2 separate regions of the Homo sapiens genome follow, and region 2 is linked to region 1. A link means that fine-mapping ties the variant in region 1 to the expression of a gene that starts in the linked region. Tissue or cell type: whole blood. Region 1 holds a variant in brackets; the other region holds the start of a gene. All regions are shown on one strand. Distances are between the middles of the regions.

Evidence for each region. PIP is the estimated chance that this variant, and not a neighbour inherited with it, causes the effect.
Region 2: ULK4 starts here. The variant in region 1 is fine-mapped to the expression of ULK4 in whole blood (INTERVAL, PIP above 0.99).

The regions. Positions count from the first base shown.
Region 1 is chr3:41,914,079-41,920,558 of GRCh38, forward strand. ULK4 (unc-51 like kinase 4) reads right to left here. Exons shown (of 37, transcript NM_017886.4): 6 at 5,639-5,740; 7 at 4,379-4,462; 8 at 1,899-1,974. Among named protein-coding and RNA genes, the nearest start is that of ULK4, 45 kb to the right of the region's middle. The variant T/C (reference allele first, on the strand shown) is at 3,467.
Region 2 is chr3:41,959,393-41,965,132 of GRCh38, forward strand. It overlaps ULK4 (unc-51 like kinase 4), which reads right to left and starts at 2,711. Exons shown (of 37, transcript NM_017886.4): 1 at 2,624-2,711. RefSeq lists enhancers at 2,681-2,840, 2,991-3,040.

The DNA of each region.
Region 1 (6,480 bases):
TTTAGGTTGTATTTAAAACTCAGGCTCACTTTCAAAAGATTAAGTTTCACTACTAATAGAGTATACCTCTAGATATACTCACCAGAGTGGGAAAATTAAGCCTGACTGAAATTTTAAAACAAAAAAGAAAAGAATTTATAGTCGACTAATCATTCAAAATTTCTGTATTAAATAAAATTACTTCAATCAAAAGTAAAACACAAATAATAGAATTTGCAACCACATATAATATTCCTTTACACAAAGGTTCTTATGGTTCACTAAAGGAGAAATAAAAATAGCCAACAAAGTAAAATGTATTTTCATCCATCAAACTGACAAAAATGTAGATCAACAAGGCACACTGTAGATGAGAGTGGGAGGGAAGGAGCTTTCTAACATATTGTTGCTGGGAGTGTAAATCAGCACATGTTCCTAGAATGCAGGAAATGTATCAAACTTTTTAAATGCTCTTAGCCTTTGGCCAGCCATTTCATTTTGAGAAATTCACATCAAAGAGATAACTAACCAAGTAAACCCAAAAAAATTTTAAAAATTCACAAAAGGATATTTACTGTAACAACACATATAATATTCCAAATCAAGAGGCATTCTAAACGTTTACTTTTTTATAGGTAATTGTATATACGTTCTACAGCCATTTAAAATGACCAGGCAGCCAGGTACAGTGGCTCACACCTGAAATCCCAGCACTTTGGGAGGCCGAGGCAGGCGGAACTGCTTGAGGCCAGGAGCTCGAGACCAGCATAGCCAACATGGTGAAACCCCATCTCTACTAAAAACACAAAAATTAGCTGAGGATGGTGGCACGCGCCTGAAATCCCAGCTACTTGGGAGGCTGAGGCATGAGAAACACTTGAACCCAGGTTGCAGTGAGCCAAGATTGTGCCACTGCACTCCAGCCTGGGTGACAGAGCAAGACTCAGAAATGGAAATGGAAAAATATGCATAATGTACCATGAGAGAAAAAAGTAGGTTATGGAGTGGTCCCATGTAAGCAAAAAATTATATAGCATACAGTTATAAATGTAGGGATATGTGGATACACCGTCTTAAGTAAATTAGGTATAGTTACATCCTATCAAAAGATGTCTGAAAAATTATCCACCAAAATAACACTAATGTTGAAAGCATTCTAATATAAGTAAAGGATGTTTGTCCTACAGCTTATACAAAAATCAGCATTTCCTTCTGCAGTTTTTAAAATATATTTAATAAAAGAATGGATTCTTGTATATGCTACACTAAATTTATTCTCCATTTTATAAACGGAACCCTCCTCCCATCACCCCATCCCAGTTACCTAGTGACAGAACCAGAACTAGAAACTAGTTGTTTGGGCCTCTTTCCCACTCTGGTCTACCTCCTAGCCTCCCCTACCCTGTGCCTCAACAATGATTTCTAACATTGCCATCACTGACAGAAAATTCACAAGGTGCCTATTATCCTATCACTTAATAGCCCCATTATGACAGGAGTGTCATAAAACCTGTTTTTATGACACTCAGTTAACAGCATCTTAACTTGACAATATCATCCCTCGGTCAATAGTCAAACAGTTTTAGCCTGAAATACAAAATACAAGAAATGGTACCTCTTGGATTTGGGAGTTATAAGAAAATTTGTCAACTACTTAATACATGAAAAGAGAAACTGACTTCAAAAATTCCTCATGATTAAAAACACCTGCAAACTGAGAGAAAAACTTTTAATCCGAAGTCAGACTTCTTTAAAAAATAATAATTTGAATAGCTATTTGTATATTAAGAACAGCACCATTTTAGAAGTACATAAAAGGGGGAAAAGATTTCATTATTTATTCCCATTAAAATACTGCCCCTTACTCCATTTGCAGAACTCAAAAGAAAAAGAAAAAAAGATCGAACTACTGTCCCTACCTTTTCTGAGGATCTCTTTGAAGTAACCCATCAAGCAAATTAATAAAATCTGAAGAAGCTTTAGGACGAGAAGAATCTATAAATGAATTAATTTCCAAGAAAAAATGATAAGTAGTAAATACATATCAATTTTATTTTTATCTCTTACATCAACATTTAAAGCAATAGTATTTTAAACACATACATTATTATTAAGAGAACACTAAATCCATTAACAACAATTATATCCTCTATTTAATGGGGCAGGATGGGGAGGTACAGAACACAAAGATTAAAAACATTTTTTCCTAGATCACAAAAAAGAAATGTAAATCTCAAAAACTAAGTCTTAACAAACCTCTAAGCCTTCTCTTCACTGAACAATCCCAATAAGGATCACCAGCTTAACAAACTCAAACACTTGTCTTCAACTATTTTGGGGGAGTTTTTTGAGATAGAGTCTTGCTCTGTCACCCAGGGTGGAGTGCAGTGGCACCATCATGGTTCACTCCAGCCTCTACCTCCCAGGCTCAAGTGATCCTCTCACCCCAGCCTCCAGAGTAGGTGGGACTACAGGCATGCACTACCATGCCTGACTAATTTTTGTTTATTTTTTATAGAGATGGGGTCTCACTATGCTGCCTAAGTTAGTCTCCAACTCCTGGGCTCCAGTGATCCACCTGCCTTGGATCTCCTAAAGTGCTGCAATTACAATTACAAGTGTGAGCCACTATGCTCAGCTCCAACTATTTTTTTTTTTTTTTTTTTGGAGAATGAGTTTCACTCTTCTTGCCCAGGCTGGAGTGCAATGGAGCGATCTCAGTTCACTGCAACCTCTGCCTCCCAGGTATATGCGATTCTCCTGTCTCAGCCTCCCAAGTAGCTCGGATTACAGGCATGTGCCACCATGCCTGGCTAATTTTTTTGTATTTAGTAGAGACAGGGTTTCACCATGATAGTCAGGCTGGTCGTGAACTCTTGACCTCAGGTGATCCACCCACCTCAGCCTCCCAAAGTGCTAGGATTACAGGTGTGTGCCACCATGCCCGGCCCCAGCTTAACTATTAATTATACCTTATTCTTTTAAGTATTCCTAACTTGAACAACTAAGAATATTTGCAATCCCTCTTTTAAGATTTTTAACAGAAATAAGAAGCATTATAATATGACACTGTCCAATACCACTAATCTCATAATGTTTTGTCTTTTTAAATTAGTTATATACCATATCCAGGTCATCAGTCTATGGTTAAAAGTAGTAGTAATGGCCACACATTGTGGCTCATACTTGAAATCCCAGCACTTTGAGAGGCCAAGGCAGGCGGATCACTCGAGGCCAGGAGTTCAAGACAAGCTAGGCTACATACCAAGACCTTGTCTCCACCAAAAAATTAAAAAATTAGCCATTCCCAGTGGTGTGCCCCTATAGTCCCGGCTACTTGGGAGGTTGACTGCACCACTGCACTCCAGCCTGAGTGACACAGCAGCACAGCAGAACCCTGTCTCTCAAATATATATATATGTATATATAGCAATAATTTTTGTAGAATCCTGTTTTCATTTATGTGTCTTAAGATAAACTTTAACAA[T/C]GTATAGCAAAATGTTTTACTACACTTGTGCCTTCTTTTGTTTTCCTTTCCTTAAAAATTATTGCTGATAGATCATTATATTAACCACAATTTATATGATTAAAGTTCCAACACTTTAAAAATAATACAACTGTATCTAATTTTAAAGATTTTTAGGCCGGGCGCAGTGGCTCACGCCTGTAATCCCAGCACTTTGGGAGGCTGAGGTGGGTGGATCATGACATCAGGAGTTTGAGACCAGCCTGGCCAAGATGGTGAAACCCCGTCTCTAATAAAAAACAAAAAACAAAAAATTAGCCGGGTGCCGTGGTGGGCACCTGTAGTCCCAGCTACTCGGGAGGCTGAGGCAGGAGAACTGCTTGAACCCGGGAGGCGGAGGTTGCAGTGAGCCGAGAACACGCCACTGCACTCCAGCCTGGGCAACAGAGCAAGACTCTGTCTCAAAAATAAATAAATAAATAAATAAATAAATAAATAAATAAATAAATAAAGATTTTTAAAACTTATAAGGGTAGCATTCTGATTCATCAAGATAAGGAAATGGTGAATTTGTTCCAACAGGAGATAGAAATAACCACATGGGATACGACTACAAAGTAAGTAAATGGTACATACAAAAAGCAATGTCACATAAGGGTTTAAGTTTTTTAAGTCTTTAAGCCATACTTTTTATGATATAGATGCACAAAATAGTTTTTAAATGAGGGAAATCTATTAGTACTTTGTTTTCTGTTTCAGCATCTTTAAAAAATGGCAAAAGAAATACTAACATTTCTAAAAATATCAACTTGGGATCATTTATAAAAGATAACTTTGGGGAGTTATGAATCAATAAAAGCAAACGTTGGATAAAGGTACACCTTTAATCAGTGTAAAATGTAAATTAATTCCATTTATCATAAGAAATCTTACCTTTCGGAATAGGTGGCAAAGGATCTTCACATAAGATCTTTTCAGTTAATTCTGAAATACTTTCTGAGAAGAATGGAGGTTTTCCTGAAATCACATGAAAACTTGCAAAATGAAAGAAGTCTGCTATCACCAATAATTCTTTTTTTTTTTTTTTTTTTTTTTTGAGATGGAGTCTTGCTCTGTCACCCAGGCTGGAGTGCAGTGGCGCAATCTCGGCTCACTGCACACTCCGCCTCCTGGGTTCAGGCCACTCTCCTGCTTCAGCCTCCCCAGCAGCTGGGACCACAGGCGCACGCTGCCACGCCCAGCTAATTTTTTGTATTTTTAGTAGAGATGGGGTTTCACCGTGTTAGCCAGGATGGTCTCAATCTCCTGACCTCGTGATCCGCCCGCCTCGATCTCCCAAAGTGCTGGGATTACAGGCGTGAGCCACCACACCTGGCCTTGCTATCACCAATAATTCTAATCTCAACTACAGATATTTCAAGATTATACAACTTATAGAAAAAATATATAGCAATAGCTATTTAATGCCTAGTATGTACGAGGCACTGCCTATATATTTCTCTTACTTCAAAATGTATTATCATCCTAACAAATACACAAACACACATATGGACCACTACTATGAACCAATGGGTGCATGGGCCATTCAAATCATCTGAATAATACACAATTGCAAGGCATCTTTACAAAAATTTCTAATAATCACAATTTTTGAGTTAGGCACATTTCAGCATTCCAGATTATCATGAAAAATTACCTATTTATCAAGAACTTTCTAGGAATCTGCATATGCCTAGATACCAAGCAACTCAGCCAAAATCAGTATACATAAAAATTTATAAGGTCACAGTTTTTTTGGCCAGGCACAGTGGCTCATGCCTATAATCCCAGAGCTTTGGGAGGCCTAAGCAGGCAGATCACTTGAGGTCAGGCATTCAAGACCAGCCTGGCCAACATGGTGAGACCCGCTCTCTACTAAAAATAGAAAAAACTGCCAGGCATGGTGGTGGGCACCTGTAAGCCCAGCTACTCGGGAAGCTGAGACACAGGAATGGCTTGAACCCAGGAGGCAGAGGTTGTAGTGAGCCGAGATCGTGCCACTGCACTCCAGACTGGGTGACAGTACGAGACTCTGTCTCAAAATAAAAAAAAATCTAGTTTTTTCACATCTTATAGGTAAAACATCTGCAAAGTACAGACTTAACCTGGTTTTTAGTCCAGCTCTGATTTTATACCTATTCAGGAAACAATTACCTGAAAACATTTCATAAAGCAGACAGCCCAAAGACCAGAGGTCACTGGAGATGGAAAAGTCAGCACCCCTCACAACTTCTGGTGCTGTATATACAGGAGATCCTAAAAGCAAAGTATGAAGAACAGCTCGGTTAGGCATTTGTATTGCTGCCAACACGAACCCACCTAGGAAAGATCTGATGAGATGAAAAAGGGCAGGAGAAAAACATGCGCATGAATAAAACTTCATGTGCATTTCACATTTTTAAATGTTTTCTAATTTTAAGGTTACATTTTGCAAAGGATGTGTGTGAATATAAAAAAGTGTTTAAAATCTACCTGAGAGGTATGGCACATTCAGCTACATTCTTCTTTTAAATTTCAATTAGAATAGTTTAAGTTAAACCTTCAATATAACAACCCCAACATCCCACTGGCTTAACAGCAAAGGTTTATCTATCACTAAACATGTCCACAACAAATCTACCAAGAAGCTCTGATCCTCATAGTCACTCAAAGACCCAGGCTGATAGAGGCTCCAACTCCACTCATGCTTCCTCACTTGGAGGCAGGGAGAAAGAATGTAGCTAACTGAACACTGGCTCCTAAAATTCCCATCTCAAAGTTACTCACATCACTTCCGCTCACACTTAGTTGGCTTTGACCAGGGAGAGGATGCAATCCTACCATCTATCCAGGAGAATAGGAAATATTTAGTGAAAAGCCCCATTGTGTGCCCCATATACTTTATACAAAGTTTAATATTACACAGAAATCCCATATTTTAGAGCCAGAAAGTTCCCTTATTCACTGACAAGAGAAATGGAAGCTTTAGAGGGATACTTAACCTCCAGTAAATCACA
Region 2 (5,740 bases), 45 kb after region 1:
GGCGGGCGCCTGTAATCCCAGCTATTCCGGAGGCTGAAGCAAGAGAATGGCTTGAACCCAGGAGGCACAGGTTGCAGTGAGCCGATTGCGCCACTGCACTCCAGCCTGGGTGACAAGAGACTCCATATCAAAAAAAATAATAATAATTAATTAATTAAAAACAAAAAGGCACTGGTTAGTATCTTTCTTTTAATGACGGTTTCCCTAAGTCCTTTTTACATCCCTCTTCGTTCTAAAACCCATTCATTAAAAAGAACCAATCCTGGCCTAGCACAGTGCCTCATGTCTGTAATCCCAACGCTTTCGGAGGTGGAGGCAGGATTGTCTGAAGCCAAGAGTTCAAGACCAGCCTGGGCAACATGGTGAGATCCCGACTCTACACAAATAAAATAGCCTGGCATGGTGGTGCATGCCTGTAGTCCCAGCTATATGGTATGTATTATAACCAAAATAAGATTAAACTGACAGTATGTTAAGATGGGAAGTTACTAAGCCAGAAAAAATATAATCAGAAACCTTAAGTGTTCACAAATTGTCTACATTAGGATATCTCAGGATAAGATGATAAAATAAGTTTTCATACAGTATGTATAACTGATTTCTTGAAAATAAGGTTTTAGGCTACAAGGGAAAAAATTAAGTAAAATCTTGATTTTTTTTTTTTTTAAAGGAGGCTAGGTCTTGAACCCCTGGGCTCAAGCAATCCTCCTGCCTCAGCCTCCCAAAATTCTGGAATTACAGGTGCAAGCCACCATCCAGCCCATCTTGAAATTTTGAATTTGATTTAGGCCAAATTCATTTCCTTAATCTTTAGTCACATCTGACCATCAAGTCACATGTGGACAATTTCAGTCTGAAATTAACAAAACACATTAGTTATAAATCTGCTTAGATAGGGTGGTTTGTTACTTTCAAGCATTTCTCCTCTCTAAGGCTGTTTCCTTAGAGTAAAATAAGAATTGGATCAAATGATTTTCTTTTTTTTTTTTGGACAGGGTCTCACTCAGTGGCCCAGGCTGGTGTGCAGGGGCAAGATCTAGGCTCACTGCAACCTCCACCTCCAGGGTTCAAACGATTCTCGTGCCTCAGCCTCCAGAGTAGCCACCTCAGCCTCTGGCACACCACCACACCCAGTTAATTTTTTGTGTTTTTGGTAGATATGGAGTTTCACTATGTTGCCCAGGCTGGTCTAGAACTCCTGGCCTCAAGTGATCCGCCTGCCTCGGCCTTCCAAAGTGCTAGGATTACAGGTGTGAGCCACCGCGCCTGGCACTAAGTTATCTTTCAATAACTTATTAATAGTTGAAATTCCATGACTTTAAGATTCTTTGACTCAGTCCAAACACGTTCCCCATTACAGACTTCCTAATATTCATTTTTAAAGCTGTAACCTCTTAATTATAAAATAAAACACAAGTACAGAAAACTCCACAGAATACATAGTTTAATGAATTACTAAAGAGGGACACCCTTCTAATCACCACCCAAAGTCAGGAAATAGGACTTTGCCAGCCACACAAGCAGCCCCTCTGTGAGCCTGTCTCAATCACCACCCCTCCTGATCCCCAAAAGTTAACCACCCCCTGACTTTCGTAGTCATCACTTCCTTAGGTTTCTTCATGGTTTTCTCACTCGAGTGTGCTTTCCCAGAAACCACAGTTTAGTCTCTTAACCTATAGTGCTCCTAAGGAAGTCTCTCTTAATTCACAAGTTCACCTAAGAAGCATCTAAGAAGCCAGAAGGCAGAGCAAATCACATACAGGTGCAAATGAGGCATTTAAGAGTCGGGGGCAGGTCCTACATTCAAGGAACGCTGAGAGCGAACAGGTGATAAGAGCGCACAGGTGCCCACTTTCAGCACAATCATGACTCCCGCACCAGAAGCATGAGCATCACCTGGGACTTAATACAAAAGAAAAAGTTATCGGCCCTGCCCCAAATTTACGGAATCATACACTACGGCGGTAGGGCCTGGCCTTCTGTGTTACTACACGCCCTGGGGTGACTGGGATGCGCTCAAGTCTGCGAAATGCCAGCCAAATCAACCCCGAGATGTAACCGATGGCGCGCGCCACACTAAGCACTCCATAGGTGCTCCTCCTCGCCGCACTTCACAGACTCAATTATCACAGACTCAGGGGCGCTACGTAGTCACTCACCCCCCCCCCCCCCCCCCCCGCTCCCCAGGCAACTCGCGGCGGGCGAATCGGCGGCTTTCGCGGCCTCGCTACGTCCGTAGGCATCAGTCCGCGAGACCGGCTGGGAGCCTAGGAAGCGCTGCAGGGCGGTGAAGACGCGGTCCGCTCTGGGAAGTTAAGAGATGGCGTCCATAAAGCACATCTCCCAAGCCGAAACACACAAGCACTCTCTCTCCCCGCTGCACCCAGGTCCTAGAAGAGGCGTCCCGTGTGCCCTTAACTAACGCCCGGATAAAAACGGGCGGCTTTTTTAACACGAGCGCAAAGCAGGGGAGCGCAGGGGGTACGGGGTCCACTGGCAGAAGGAGAGAGGGCGGCCAGGCGCCACCACCCACCCGCCCCGGCAGGCCTGCGCGCTCTTCCGCGACCGCTTAGGCAGACACGAACTCAGACTCGTAGCTACTAAAACCGCCACTGCCACGCACCTGGTAGCTAAGTCAAGAAAAGAGTCCAGTCCACTTGGCTGCTCCCGCGGTTGCGCGCATCTCGGCCTCTGCCTCAGGACAGGTCCACAGGCCCAAGAATGGGGGAGAAAGCAGTGAAGCAAAGCGGAACGCGCGGAAGAAGCCGACCAGCCTTACGGAGGCGACGCCCCTCCAGGTTTGGATTCGTCCATACGGTTTCCACGGCAGCACACAGAACGCCGGAAGAAGCTCAGGAAGCCGACTGGCTGTGCAGTTTCCGTTCCTGTTGGCTGGGGCCCGGAAGTGAGAGACCACGAGGGCCCCTCCCTCCACCCAAAGGGCATCACGCCCTGCCTTTGGACGAGCCCACAGGCCAGAGACTGGGGCGGGAAGTGCTGGAGTAACAGTCATAGTGGTCGGCCCACCATCCCTCTATGTTTGGATTTGCTCATTCCATCTCCATGGCAGCACGCAGAACGCTGGAAAAACGCAAAGCGCTGATTGGTTAAGAGTCTCAGTTCCTATTGGCCAGAGTCCGAAGTGGGAGCCCGTGAGGGACTACTCTTCAATCTTAAGTGGGTGCTGAGGCTAGAGTGTGGAGAACTGAGACCTCGTCATTTCTTCTCTTCCCGTTCCCACTGTCCTTCTGTTTCCTTCCATTCTTTTCTTTCTGGCTTCTTCTGGGAGCTCAGGTAGACATGGTGGCATAGTCTGGATAACCAACGCCTCAGAAGCAGGGGCCCCGGGGTCCTCACCATTTAGAAAAGAGAAGGCTGTGAATTACCTTCCTTTTTGGAGATGGAGGAAACAGATGAGACACTCTGATCTCAAGTTGATTGTGTAAACTAAAAATAAAAGTTCCAAGCCCCCCTACCAACTGAGTGGATCCCTCCTCTGGGCCAAAGGCACGCCAAAGTTAACCTGAAGAACTAGCTCAGGCAATGATGGGAAGATGGGGTGGGACAGGCCTCATTATACCCTCCTCCCGTTGGAATACAGGCACAGCTGACCAGCGTTAACATTAAACAGAGACCTTAAGACTGACAAAACAGACTTTTTTGCAGCAATAAGATACCAACATGGCAGCAGGCCCCAAAAGACATTGAAGTATTTTATCCTGATATATATATACACACACATAGACAAACACACACACACATATACTCTTATGTATACATATATACTCATATACGTATATATATATATATTTTTTTTGAGACAGTCTCGCTGCATCACACAGACTAGAGGGCAGTGGCGCAATCTCGGCTCACTGCAACCTCCACCTCCTGGGTTCAAGTGATTCTCCTGCCTCAGCCTCCCAAGTAGCTGGGATTACAGGCGTGTGCCACCACACCAGCTAATTTTTGTATTTTTAGTAGAGACAGGGTTTCACTGTGTTGGCCAAGCTCATCTTGAACTCCTGACCTCAGGTGATCCACCCGCCTTGGCCTCCCAAAGTGCTGGGATTACAGGTGTGAGCCACCGTGCCTGGCCAAATATATTTATTTGACATATTTTGAAATGGCCTTGCAGAGCTATCTCTTCTGGGGGGAATCTACATTCTGTAAAGAATCCCCTTGTCTTTCCAGGTCTTTTCCCTGATGCTGGAGAGAATTAACTGAGAACCTGACACCTGTTTTAAGTCTGATAAGAAACATTTACAATCTATTCTCTCTGAAACCTGCTACATAGAGGCTTCATCTGCAGAACAAGAACCCTGGTCTCTGCAACCTCTTATCTCAACCCAGACACTGCCTTCTATTGGCTCCAGGTCTTTATATAATAACTCTTTTAACCAATTGCCAATTGTAGGGTATATGGATGTGCTTTGGTCAAGGAATAGGCCAAGGTGGACATCCGGGCCAGAGTGGCTCAGCGAGTTTAGGACACAGGCGCATATTCCACTTGTTATGTAACCCGTTTATGTAAGTTCATACTTGGATCTGAGCCACTATTGTCTGTAGAAGGTATAACTGCCCTGCTGACACTGTGCCCAGGTCTGAGTTCAGCACGACACGACCCGGTTCGTGCACTGGTGCCCAGAGTAATGCTACTAACCCCTCTAAGGGAGAGCGGTTGCCCTTAAGGTGGGCAGAGGGGAGCCGAGCCAGGAACCAGCTTGTGCCCAGAGGGAGAGTTAAGCTGCTGACCCTGACAGAGCTGGCTTTGCAGGCCAGGGTGTGCAGCTGCAGGCATGGGGGCAACAGGAGCCACAGAGCCAGAACAGACAGCCGAGATAAAGGTGGACAGTGTGAGAGAGCTAGTGTGATTAAGCTGCTGATGACACAGCCGCTGAATAAAACTACATTTCACTTGCCTACACGCCCCCAACCCTCCTTGTGTTCTTTCAGTTATTCGCCCATCCACCCACTCCCCTTGGACCTCAGCTGGGGGCTGGAACCTGACAATTGGCGTAGTCGTGGCATAACACCAATCACCTATTAAATCCACCCTATGATGTAGAAGCTCTTTCCAGCTTCGAGTTGTCCCACCTTTCCTGACCCAACCAATACCTTATGTCATGTATTGATTGATGTCTTATTTCTCCGTAAAACATGTAAAACCGAGCTGCAGCTCAGTCACCTTAGCTGTCAGGCCTCTGAGCCTAAGCTAAGCCATCATATCCCCTGTGACCTGCACGTATACATCCAGATGGCATGAAGCAACTGAAGATCCACAAAAGATGTGAAAATAGCCTTAACTGATGACATTCCACCATTGTGATTTGTTTCTGCCCCACCCTACCTGATCAATTTACTTTGTAATCTCCCCCACCCTTAAGAAGGTTCTTTGTAATTCTCCCCACCCTTGAAAATGTACTTTGTGAGATCCATCCTCTGCCCGCAAAACATTGTTCCTGACTCCACCGCCTATCCCAAAACCTATAAGAACTGACGATAATCCCACCACCCGCTGCTGACTCTCTTTTCAAACTCAGCCCACCTGCACCCAGGTGAAATAAACAGCCTTGTTGCTCACACGAAGCCTGTTTGGTGGTCTCTTCACACGGACACGTGAGACATTAGCCATATGTTCCTAGGGCCTCTTGAGACTGTGCCTCGAGCCATGGTCACTCAGATTTGGCTCAGAATAAATCTCTTTAAATATTTTACAGAGTTTAACTCTTTTTGTCAACCA